2 linked regions of the Homo sapiens genome follow. The protein of the gene in region 2 interacts with the protein of the main gene of each other region in a biochemical or structural test. Each region holds a gene or a part of one and is shown on either strand. Other genes may lie near its edges.

The links. Proteins that work in one complex are often made in the same cells at the same time.
Region 1: the proteins of TANC1 (region 2) and LIMK2 interact in a test that uses a peptide from one of them, tested with the Homo sapiens proteins (one large-scale study listed by IntAct).

What each region holds. Positions count from the first base shown.
Region 1 is NC_000022.11:31,259,846-31,265,149, reverse strand, and holds part of LIMK2 (LIM domain kinase 2), read right to left. Parts: intron 5,262-5,304; coding exon 5,073-5,261; intron 3,017-5,072; coding exon 2,911-3,016; intron 2,556-2,910; coding exon 2,359-2,555; intron 1-2,358. UniProt on the Homo sapiens protein: Serine/threonine-protein kinase that plays an essential role in the regulation of actin filament dynamics. Acts downstream of several Rho family GTPase signal transduction pathways.
Region 2 is NC_000002.12:159,173,720-159,179,023, reverse strand, and holds part of TANC1 (protein TANC1), read right to left. Parts: intron 4,072-5,304; coding exon 3,840-4,071; intron 2,673-3,839; coding exon 2,506-2,672; intron 469-2,505; coding exon 1-468. UniProt on the Homo sapiens protein: May be a scaffold component in the postsynaptic density.

The sequences.
Region 1 (5,304 bases), on a different chromosome or scaffold from region 2:
GGATCTCCACTCACTGCAACCTCTGCCTCCCAGGTTCAAGAGATTCTCCTGCCTCAGCCTCCCAAGTAGCTGGGATTACAGGCGTGTGCCACCACAACCGAATAATTTTTGTATTTTTTTAGTAGAGATGGGGTTTCACCATGTTGGCTAGGTTGGTCTCGAACTCCTGATCTCGCGATCCATCTGTCTCGGCCTCCCTAAGTGCTGGGATTACAGGCGTGAGCCACCACACCCGGCCCTAATTTTTGTATTTTTAGTAGAGATGGGGTTTCACCATATTGGCCAGGCTAGTCTCAAACTCCTGACCTTGTGATTCGCCCACCTCGGCCTCCCAAAGTGCTGGGATTATAGGCGTGAGCCACTGCGCCCAGCCTAATTATTGTATTTTTAGTAGAGATAGGGTTTCACCATGTTGGCCAGGCTGGTCTCAAACTCCTGACCTCAAGTGATTTGCCCGCCTCGGCCTCCCAATGTGCTGGGATTACAGGCGTGAGCCACCGTGCCTGGCCAGCAAATGGGATTTTGGATGATATTTTGCACATCTTTGTACCTGTCCATGTTTCCTGAATTTTAAGATGATAAACACGTATGATTTTTACAGCAATAAAGTCACTATGTTTACATTTTCAAAAGCGGTCGATAATAGTCATGGTCAATGACTGTTATTTTCACTTACTGAAGAAGGAACAAGAAGGTTGAAGTCCACAGCACTGCAGGTGAACAGCCCTGCGAACTTTCTCTCTGGGGTATGCTCCTGCTTTACTTGGGCTACCCAGAGAGGACTGACGCTGGATGGCTCTTGGCTTGTCCCGACCTACAGGTTTACTTACCCTTGTCCTTTTGCTCTGCCTCCTGCTGACCATGCCCACCAGAGCACACAAGGCTAGCTGCCCCCCTCCTCTGCATGGTGGCTCTACAGATACCTGGCCACTCCCAAATCTTCCCTTTTCCAGGCCATGGATTTCTAGCTCTTCCCTGCCCTCTGTTGCCCTGCCTCCCACTAATTTCATCATACTGACCAAGGCCAAGAGGCAATGGGAGTGAGGGCAGCACTTTAATGAGAGGGCACTGTTTCCAACACATGCCAGCTGAGAGGGCTCTAACTTACTCAGTTTGTTTGGTGAGGAGAGTGGATAAAAAAAAACAAACTTTTTTTTTTGGAGACAAGGTCTCACTCTGTTGCCCAAGCTGTAGTACAGTGGTGTGATCAAGGCTCACTGCAGTCTTGAACTCCTGGGCTCAGGCAATCCTCCTCCTCAGCCTCTTGAGTAGCTGGGATTACAGGCATGTGCCACCATGCCCAGTTAAGTTTTTTATTCTTTGTAGAGACAGGAATGTGGCCCAGGCTGCTCCTGAACTCCTGGCCTCAAGCAATCCTCCGGCCTTGGCCTCCCAAAGTGCTGGGATTACAGGTGTGAGCCACAGTGCCCTGCCCATCTAATTAAAAACAATTATTATTATTATTTTTTTTTTGTAGAGACAGTGTCTCACTATGTTGCTCAGGCTGGTCTCAAACTCCTGTGTTCAAGCCATCCTCCGACCTAGGCCTCCCAGAGTGTTGGGATTACAGGCATGAGCCACGGTGCCTGGCCAAGAACCTGATTCTTAGTGATACTAAGAATGTGTCACGTTTACTGAACACTGTCCCTATGGCAGCACTATACAACTTTATGTCCTTTTCCACATTTAATCCTTACATAATTGGTGAGACAGCCACCTTTATCTTACCATCTTATGTCACAGATGCAGAAACAGGCTCAGAGAGATGAAGTGATTTGTGAAGGGAGGAGCTCAGCCTGAAGCCCCAGTAGGGTATCAGTATTTCTGCCTGGGAGCCAGTGCTCTTGACTTCTTTTCTGTAAGTCTCCCTACTTGGGGCTTCCACTCAAGGCAACTTCTCCTTCCCCATGGACCTGGCAGAATCTGGGGTTTGGGGGTTGTTGGTCCCTCAAGTCTAAAAAAAACGTTCATTCATCTTTTGCTTTATTGTTTTCAAAGTCTTTCTACACAATTTATTCAATCCTATCTGTGCCCCTACTCCAGGCTCTGAGCTCCATGCTTTCTCCATAGGCCATGTTGCCCTTCAGGGTTTAGCATCACTGCCTCCTGTCCAGCTTAGGAGTTCAGTGGACAGAGACTGACTCTCAGGTTTCTAAGGAAACCTGGCAGACAGCTGGGTCCGCACAGGCTCTGGCTGTAAACTGTGATCCCCACAGGGGCAGCTGGGTCAGCACAATCCTCATAGTCTGTCCCTGGCCAGCTGGTTCCTTTCCTAACTCTGCAGGCTTCTGAAAGCCAGCTCAGCTTCATCCGAGAGACAGACATAGGACAGAACAGAGCCAGGGTGGGAGGTGGCACCTTAGGGAACGTCTCCTCAGTGTCCCCTCCAGATTCTCCTTGGTGTCCAGGGTGCTGAGGGCGTGGGGGTGTCCGGCATTCTGCATGTGAGGAGCGAGCCGGGCCTCCAGCCGCAGCTGGTCCAGGCGTTGGGAGACGGGGTCATGTTCAATCAACAGCTGAAGTGTCTGGCTCGTCTGGCTAATTGCATCCTCCACCTGTGGCCAAGAGCAGTATAAAGCTCCCACAGGCTGCCCCATCCCAGGCCACCCATGGCCAACCCAGATGACTCAGGCACAGTGTGGCCAGTGCTCAACTTGTCTAATGGTGGCCTTTAGCTGCCAGTGGCCTCACAGTGCCCTCTGCCTGGCATCCTGTCAGCTCTCCCGTCCATCAACCATCCCTGCTACCCTGGGAACCTGTTACGCTGAAATAGGTCACCAGTGGTCACAGGCTCAATGCTAAGACAAAGAGATGGGCTGGGGGTAGGAAAAGGTAAAGGCTACAGCCTGATTTCTCAGAGGATCTGTTCCATGTCCCACCCTCACAAGACAGATTAGACACACACTCTACCTCCTCCACTCGAAGTGTGCGGACGGGGGTCCCATTGATCTCCAGGATGCGGTCCCCAGGGTGGATGGCGTTTCGATTGTTGGGACTGATGTGCATCCGGTTGACCCTGGGCCAGACAAGAGTTGAGGCAGGGTAAAGATGTCCTAAAAACCTGCTTGACCAATTCTGCTTGTGCAGGGAAGGTTTACCAGGTCCCAGGCCACCAGTGGCCCCTAAGGGGCCCAGGATACCCACACAGAAAGGCAACACCTTTTCCAGGATGCCCCATCTCAGTGAAGGGAATTGCCACTCACCCTGTGGCCTAAGCCAGAAACTTGAACATCATCTTCCCAATCTGGAGTTCCCTCATCTCTCCTACTCCCATCTCTAAGAACTCTGCCTTCTTTCCATCATTGTAGTTATTCACATCTCTTACCTGGATCACGGTAATAGCTTCTATTTTTTTTTTAAACTTTGTTTTTAATTTTTATTTGAGATGGCATCTTACTCTGTCATCCAGGCTGGAGTGCAGTGGCATGATCTGGGCTCACTGCAACCTCCACCTCCCAGGCTCAAGCAATTCTCATGCCTCAGCCTCCTGAGTAACTGGGATTACAGGCGCGCACCACCATACCCAGCTAATTTTTTTGTACTTTTTGTAGAGATGGGGTTTTGCCATGTTGGCCAGGCTAATCCCAAACTCTTTTTTTTTTTTGAGATGGAGTCTCGCTCTGTCGCTCAGGCTGGAGTGCAGTGGCGTGATCTCTGCTCACAGCAAGCTCCGCCTCCTAGGTTCATGCCATTCTCCTGCCTCAGCCTCCCGAGTAGCTGGGACTACAGGCGTCCGCCACCATGCCCGGCTAATTTTTGTACTTTTAGTAGAGACGGGGTTTCATTGTGTTAGCCAGGATGGTCTTGATCTCCTGACCTTGTGATCCGCCCACCTCGGCCTCCCAAAGTGCTGGGATTACAGGCGTGAGCCACTGCGCCTGGCCTAATCCCAAACTCTTGACCTCAAGCAATCTGCCCACCTTGGCCTCCCAAAGTGCTGGCATTACAGGCGTGAGCCACTATGTCTACGTCTGGACTTTTCTTTTAATTAAGAAAAACAGAGACGGGGTCTTGCTATGTTGGCCAGGTTGGTCTTCAACTCCTGGCCTCAAGCAATCCTCCCACCTCAGCCTCCCAAAGTGCTGAGATTACAGGCATGAACCACCATGCCCAGCCTACAATAGCTTCCTAACTAGTCTCTATACCTTTAGGCTTTCCCCTCTCCAATCCAACCTCCATACCAGTGATCCTTCTAAAATGTTAACTTGGTCACAACACCTTGCTGCTTAAACTCTCAATGGATCTGCTGGATTTTCATAATCCAGGCCCTCTATACTTAACAGCCCCTTTTCTGGCCACACTCAACCTACATCAGACATGATTAAGACTCCTACTTTTGGAGAAATGCTTCTCCCTCTGCCCTGAACACAATTCCCTCTCCTCTTCATCTAATAAGGTTGTAGAACAGACCTTAGCTCCTCCTGACTTCCCAAACTCTAGTATCTTTCACCTGCTGTGCAAGCACTAGCCTAGTGTCCAACACATGGTAGATACACAATCAATATTTACATGGTAAGCGGCCAGAGGTACGACATTACTGGTATTAGATAGACACAGACTCTTTCTCCATCTGGTCTCTGGCCTGAATCTAGGATAGGGTCTTAACTTCTTTTGGGCCATGGACCACATTTTCTCCATTCATTCTCTCGACTGACAAAATAATAATCAATCAACTCCTACTATATGCCAGGTACTCTTCCAAGCCCTGGGCATGCAGCACTGAATAAGACAGCAAGTTTCTTCTGGAATTTACATTCTAGTGGAGGGGATAGAAGATAAACAACTAATACACATAATCAAGCCAGATGATTTCAAAGAGCAAACATGACCTGAAACCTGACACCTGAAAGGTGAGTGATTCTTGCCTTAAGTATCGGGTAGGAAGTAGCCTGGGCAGAGAGAACAGTAAGTGCCAAGGCCCAGGTACGGTTACAGCATAGTGGGGTCCAGGAGAAAGATATGAGATGAGAATAAAGGGAGTTCTGCATGAGACTTTGGAGGTCTAAGCCCTCTGAGGCCCATTTACAGACTCTGCTCAAGAACCCCTGCTGAAGGGTTCTCAAAATACTTACTCTTTCACTTGCACAGTGGTGGCGTAGTTGGAGCAGGCACTCTCCACGGACACGGAGAAGCCCCGCCTGCCTTCAGTGGTGGCCGGCATGGAGATGAGCGTGACAGAGTAGGGCAGCTGCTCCTGAACAGACTCTGTGGAGAGTCTCTCAAACATGGGTGCCAGCACCACCTCATTGTGGCACTTCCCACTGGGGAGAGGGCACAGGGGGGAATAAGATGCTAGAGTCCCAC
Region 2 (5,304 bases):
GTCTTCCCATCCCTGCTCCCCCTGGATGTGGCCAGCATTAATAGCCTGAAAGATCTGCTCGTCTGTCATGGGGTGGAGGGATGCGAGGGCCACGTTGAGAATCGGAAGTGCCCTCTCAAAGGCGGACTGGGTCATGAACTTCATGTTGCACTGAAGCAAATAGAGCTCAGAGAGAGACACGGGCACCACCTTGTAGCTGGCACTCTTAATGACCAAGTGGCCCCTCTGGAAAAGGTCCAGGGTGAGCTTGAGGTACAGGTAGGAGCCGAGGCTCCGCAGCACCAGGTGGCTGCTCACTTTTCCAATGAGTGTGGCATCGGCCTTGCCATTCAGGGAGATGTTGCTGAGGATGTCCTGGCTGCTGTGCACCCTGTGCTGGACGTAGGCGTGCAGGTCACTGTGGATGTCTTTGTTGTCTGGGAAGTCATCTAAGGAAAGCTTGACAAATGGCAGCGCACTTATGATTTCCTGGGGGAGAAAACAAAAACCCACAGTGTCACTCTAAAGAGATTCCTTTTTTATTTTAACAGCATTTTAAACCAGATTCACTAGTTTTGTTTCAAGGAGGATTTTCATGGATTACAGGGACTCATTGTTTTGTATTAAAACGTGTAATAGGATAAGGTGAAGATAAAAAGCTTATGTGAAAGAAATCCTGATGGGAGATGGAATCAGTAAGTGCTATCCTGAGGCCCTCATCCAAGGACCCTGAGCCTAGCAAGCAGAGTAAGAGCCCTGTGCAGACAGCGGCAACGAGGCCAGGGCCAGTAAGGGCAGTGAGACTCTGCAGGTGACCTGATACCCATAATCCTTACACTGTGAAACTGCTTATATAACAAGGACAAACACCAACCAACACTGCACATCTAAGAACACGGCCAGACGCCAAGATAAAAGACATCCTTCTTTATGCAGCAAACACTGGGGCTGTGTAACCCAATCAGGAAATCTGAGTCTGCCCCTGGGCTGTGTCTCAACGACAGCGCATCTTAACAAAGCTGCCTACTTTGGTATAGCACGTTATTTTATGAATTGCTTTTTTAAAGTAAACTTTTAAATTGAAGTCTAACAATGAACATATGATTTGTGTACAAATGACAATTGCACAGTGTCACTAATTTTCACTAAGTCAAATATACCTATGTAACCAGCACCCAGAAACAAAACATCCTCAGCTCCCAGAAGCCTCATGTGCCCTTCCCATCTCTTCCCCATTCCAAAGATTAAGCACATCTGACACCTAAAAGCAAAGAAGAGTTTTGCCTTTTTAAAAAGACTTCCCACTATTGTTTCTGAAGTATTTAAATGCACGTGCTCATTTAATATAACAATGTAGATAAAGAGGGCAGAATACAATTATTCCCATTTTACATGGATGCTATCTGAAGCTCTGAAAACTTACACAGCTGGGAAGAAGAACGTAAGATTCCTGGTTCCTATGATCTACTGATGGACAAATTGTGCTTACTATGTAAAAAATGACTGAAAAATATACAAACTGAATGTCCAAAAAACACGCATCAAGTTCAACTGAGGTCTAATTTCAGTTTTTATAATGAAAAAATTCCAAATGCTGTTTTTAAATAAATATCATAAAAGGGCAAAAATCAAAACCTAATGTCTAAAAGTCTTCACTGAAAAAGGATAGGTATAGAAGGAGTCAATGGTTAAGACACAATTTCAGGGTTTAAGTGAGGAAGAAGATGGAGGAGAAAAAAAAAATCACCCTACCCCTCGCTGCAAATGTTACCTCATGCTTAAGTTTTGTGAAAAAATAGACCTCTGGGAATAGGCCTTAAAAATGTTTCACCTTCAGCCAGGCACAGTGGCTCATGCCTGTAATCCCAGCACTTTGGGAGGCCAAGGTGGGTGGATCACCTGAGGTCAGGAGTTGGAGACCAGCCTGGCCAACATGGTGAAAATCCGTCTCTACTAAAAATACAAAAATTAGCTGGGCATGGTGGCAGATGCCTGTAATCCCAGCTACTCCGGAGGCCAAGGCAGGAGAATCACTGGAACCAGGGAGGCGGAGGCTGCATTGAGCCGAGATCATGCCACTGCACTCCATCCTGGGTGACAGAGCGAGACTCTATCTCAAAAAAAAAAAAAAAAAAAATCTTTCACCTTCATTTTTCCCTTCAAAAAAACACAAAGCCCCACAGTAAACCCTTGCAAATAACTACCAGCAGGAGTAGCTTTAAACTCTGGCAGGCCTCTTGGCCCCACACACTCCATGACGGTAACCAGGGCTAGATGCCACCATTTGAAAAGTGAACGTGCAATTCGATGCCAACAGGAAACTTACCTGACATCTTGATAAATATACCTGGGGCTAAAAAGGTCAGAGTTTCACCCAAGTCTGGCTCTCTGGACTAGTTTTTCAAATTCTTAACATAGTTTCCAATTCAAGCAGCTGAATGGTTTACAACAGTTTTACGTTATTAACATTTATCACTGTAAAATTGGAATGGGGACTTGGAGAAAGATTTGAGAATTCTTTGTTACCTGAAAATTTGCTCTTACAGTCACAATCAACTTCAACCAGGCAGGAAATTTAGAAATAATTTTGGTAATAAATGAAGAAAGCGTATCTCCATAATCAGGTTTATGAAACTCAGCTTCATTTAAGCCATCTATCAAAATAATGTATTCTTCTTCAGGAATTTTCTGCTCTACAGGATAAAATAATTTTTTCAAATTAAGAAATTATACATTTCTCTAAGACAGCAACACCCAGTGTATTTTAGTGCCCAGTTTAGTGTTAGAAACTAAAAAGGTTTACATATGGCACAAGAAACAGTTTTCACAGAAGCATATTTTCTATTAAATTTATAATGAAAACTGGAGCACAGAGCCAAAAGAAAACCAATTCTCACAAAACAAACATATTGCATGACACATGTTAGCAGAATCTCACTCGTGTATATAACACAGTTAGCTCTTCATAAACCACTGTCATTGGGGTGGGCTACACAAAGATAATGAACACATACAGAGGCCCAATCCGGAAAGGTCACTAGGTCCCCCCATGAGAGCTCCCCAGTGGATTCCAGGGAAGGGAAACTGACCCCCTCGCTGCCCCCAGCCCAGGGCAAACTGCCCTGGCCAAGCCATACAACCAACACAGCGTGAGAGCTCCACGCTACCGACTCCTCCAACAGGGCTCTTCTCTGCGAGCCTGAATCTGGTTTTCTATTTATTAGTGCTGATTTTCTGCCCAGGCAATAGAGAAGAAATGATGACATATCTGTTTTCTATCCCTCTAGCACCTTCCAGCAGAGGTGCCATGTGGGCAAGTAAACAAGCTCAAAAGGTGAGGAGTCCAGGGCAGAGAGGATGGGAAACTGAAGGGCCCATCAGGTCACTGATGTCCATTACCTTGTCGGGGACAAACAATTAAAATGGAAACCTTTAGAAGTCACTTTAAGGTTTCAATTCAACTGAGCAGAGGCCCTGACAAATATATATGCTGGAAAATTCCTCCAAATAATCCACTTATTCCCTCAGATACTTAGGAGTGCAAAATACGCAACAGTCTTCTGTGGTGCAAGTCACCTAAACAGCCCACACTTACAAGCTGACTACTTTGGAACTGCTCAGTCATCACATTCATTCTTATCAGGGTGCTTCTTTTAACACTATACCATAGGGGTGGTGTAGGAGCGACCTCATGGGGCTGGTTCTGAGAAAGAGGAGTGGATGGGCACGGAGGCTTCGACATCCTCTCCATGCTCCACCTCACTTCTACCCCAGCCCGGCTGACCACCTGCCTTCTGGGGACCACCTGTGTCTGCTGTACCACTACTGAGATGGGGCTGTGGGTAGCTGCTGCGAAGTACCATTTCTCAGGTTTGTGAGTGGCTCCAGCACTCCCCTCTTGAAAGCTGCCACCGGGTCCTGCACACAGGATCGGAGGCTCAGCATGCTCTGTAGTTGGGGCTCCTTTATCAGAAGGTCTCTGTAGGCGGCCAGCTGATGGGACCGGCAGAGCAAAGCTGCGATGCTGTGCACAAACTCGGGCACCAGGCAAGTGTACGTGTTGTCAGCCTGGCAGTAGTGGTAGGCCACCACCTAGGGGGAAGCAGAACCGTCAGCATCACCTCACCCTCTTCACACAGCTCCTTCTGCAATCTCAAACAGGAACACAACTCTGCCCATTCGCTGGTAACAAGATACATAGCATCTATTCCCCAAGACTGGGTCATTTGTTAGCATAATTGTTCCATTTATTCCTTCCTTCACTTATGTGGTTTGCAGACCTTTAACTGCATCCACAAAGCCATCTTGATTAGCATAAAAATCAGCACAAGTTATTTTTTTATTTTTGTATTTAATATAAACAAACAGCATTCATAAAACCTAAAACCTACCCTGGCTTACAGCAGCTCCAAGCCATCCTAATATTCTCAACATCAAAAAGTGCCATCTTCACTAGGTTTCTGTTCTCAAGAGCAGCGGCACCTCTTTAGGAAACCCTTTTGCTGATCCCAAAAGGCAGATGATAAACCCAGTGGCTGTGAGACCGGGGCTGTAGAGTCACAGCAGCTCCTTCTCCTGGTCAGGAGGGTCAAGATCTTGGCCCCTCCCCACACCCACACTGCATCAAGGGACACTGTGGAGGAGTTCTACAGGGGCACTGTCTGAAGAATGAAACCCGAAATCACCAAATCTCTGCCCATCGTGTGGAGAGATAAGTTGGAGTTGAGAGGGAGCTGCCCAGGTACTGAGAGGAAAAGGAATGGTCCCTGTTCCAAGGGACCTGCAGTGTCAGCAGGCTGTTTGTGAGAGGGACCCCACGAAAGGGCCAGACGCTGAAGTGTTGGGAATGGGAGGCGTGCTATAGATAGAAGAAAAATCCAATACTTTTCCAAAGGAGGATGATAGGAGAAACACAAGTAGAAGGTAAGGAAGGAAAAGAAGAGCAAAACACTCGTGCCAAGAGCTACCTGTTTTTTGGGAGTATCTGCCTTGCTGCTGTCCCACTGGGTGCGGCAAGCGCCTGCAGGAAGTAGGACAAGAACCACTAGCCACAGTTCATCACTGAGGGCACCAGACACTGAGGTTAGATGCCTTGCCAACCTGACACAGATAGTCAGGGATGTGGGATTAGATCCCAAGTCTGCAGACTCTTTAAAAGGCAAGTGGCAAAAGTAAATGTGCAACAGCTTTTCTCTGGCCAACCTGGAGTTGCCATGAGACTTTTGGTTTAGATTAAATTTATCATCAACAGAGGAAAGCTGGCTGCTCTCCAACTCTCACCTGGACAGAAATTAGCAGGGATACATGTGAGGATCCTGTAAGCTT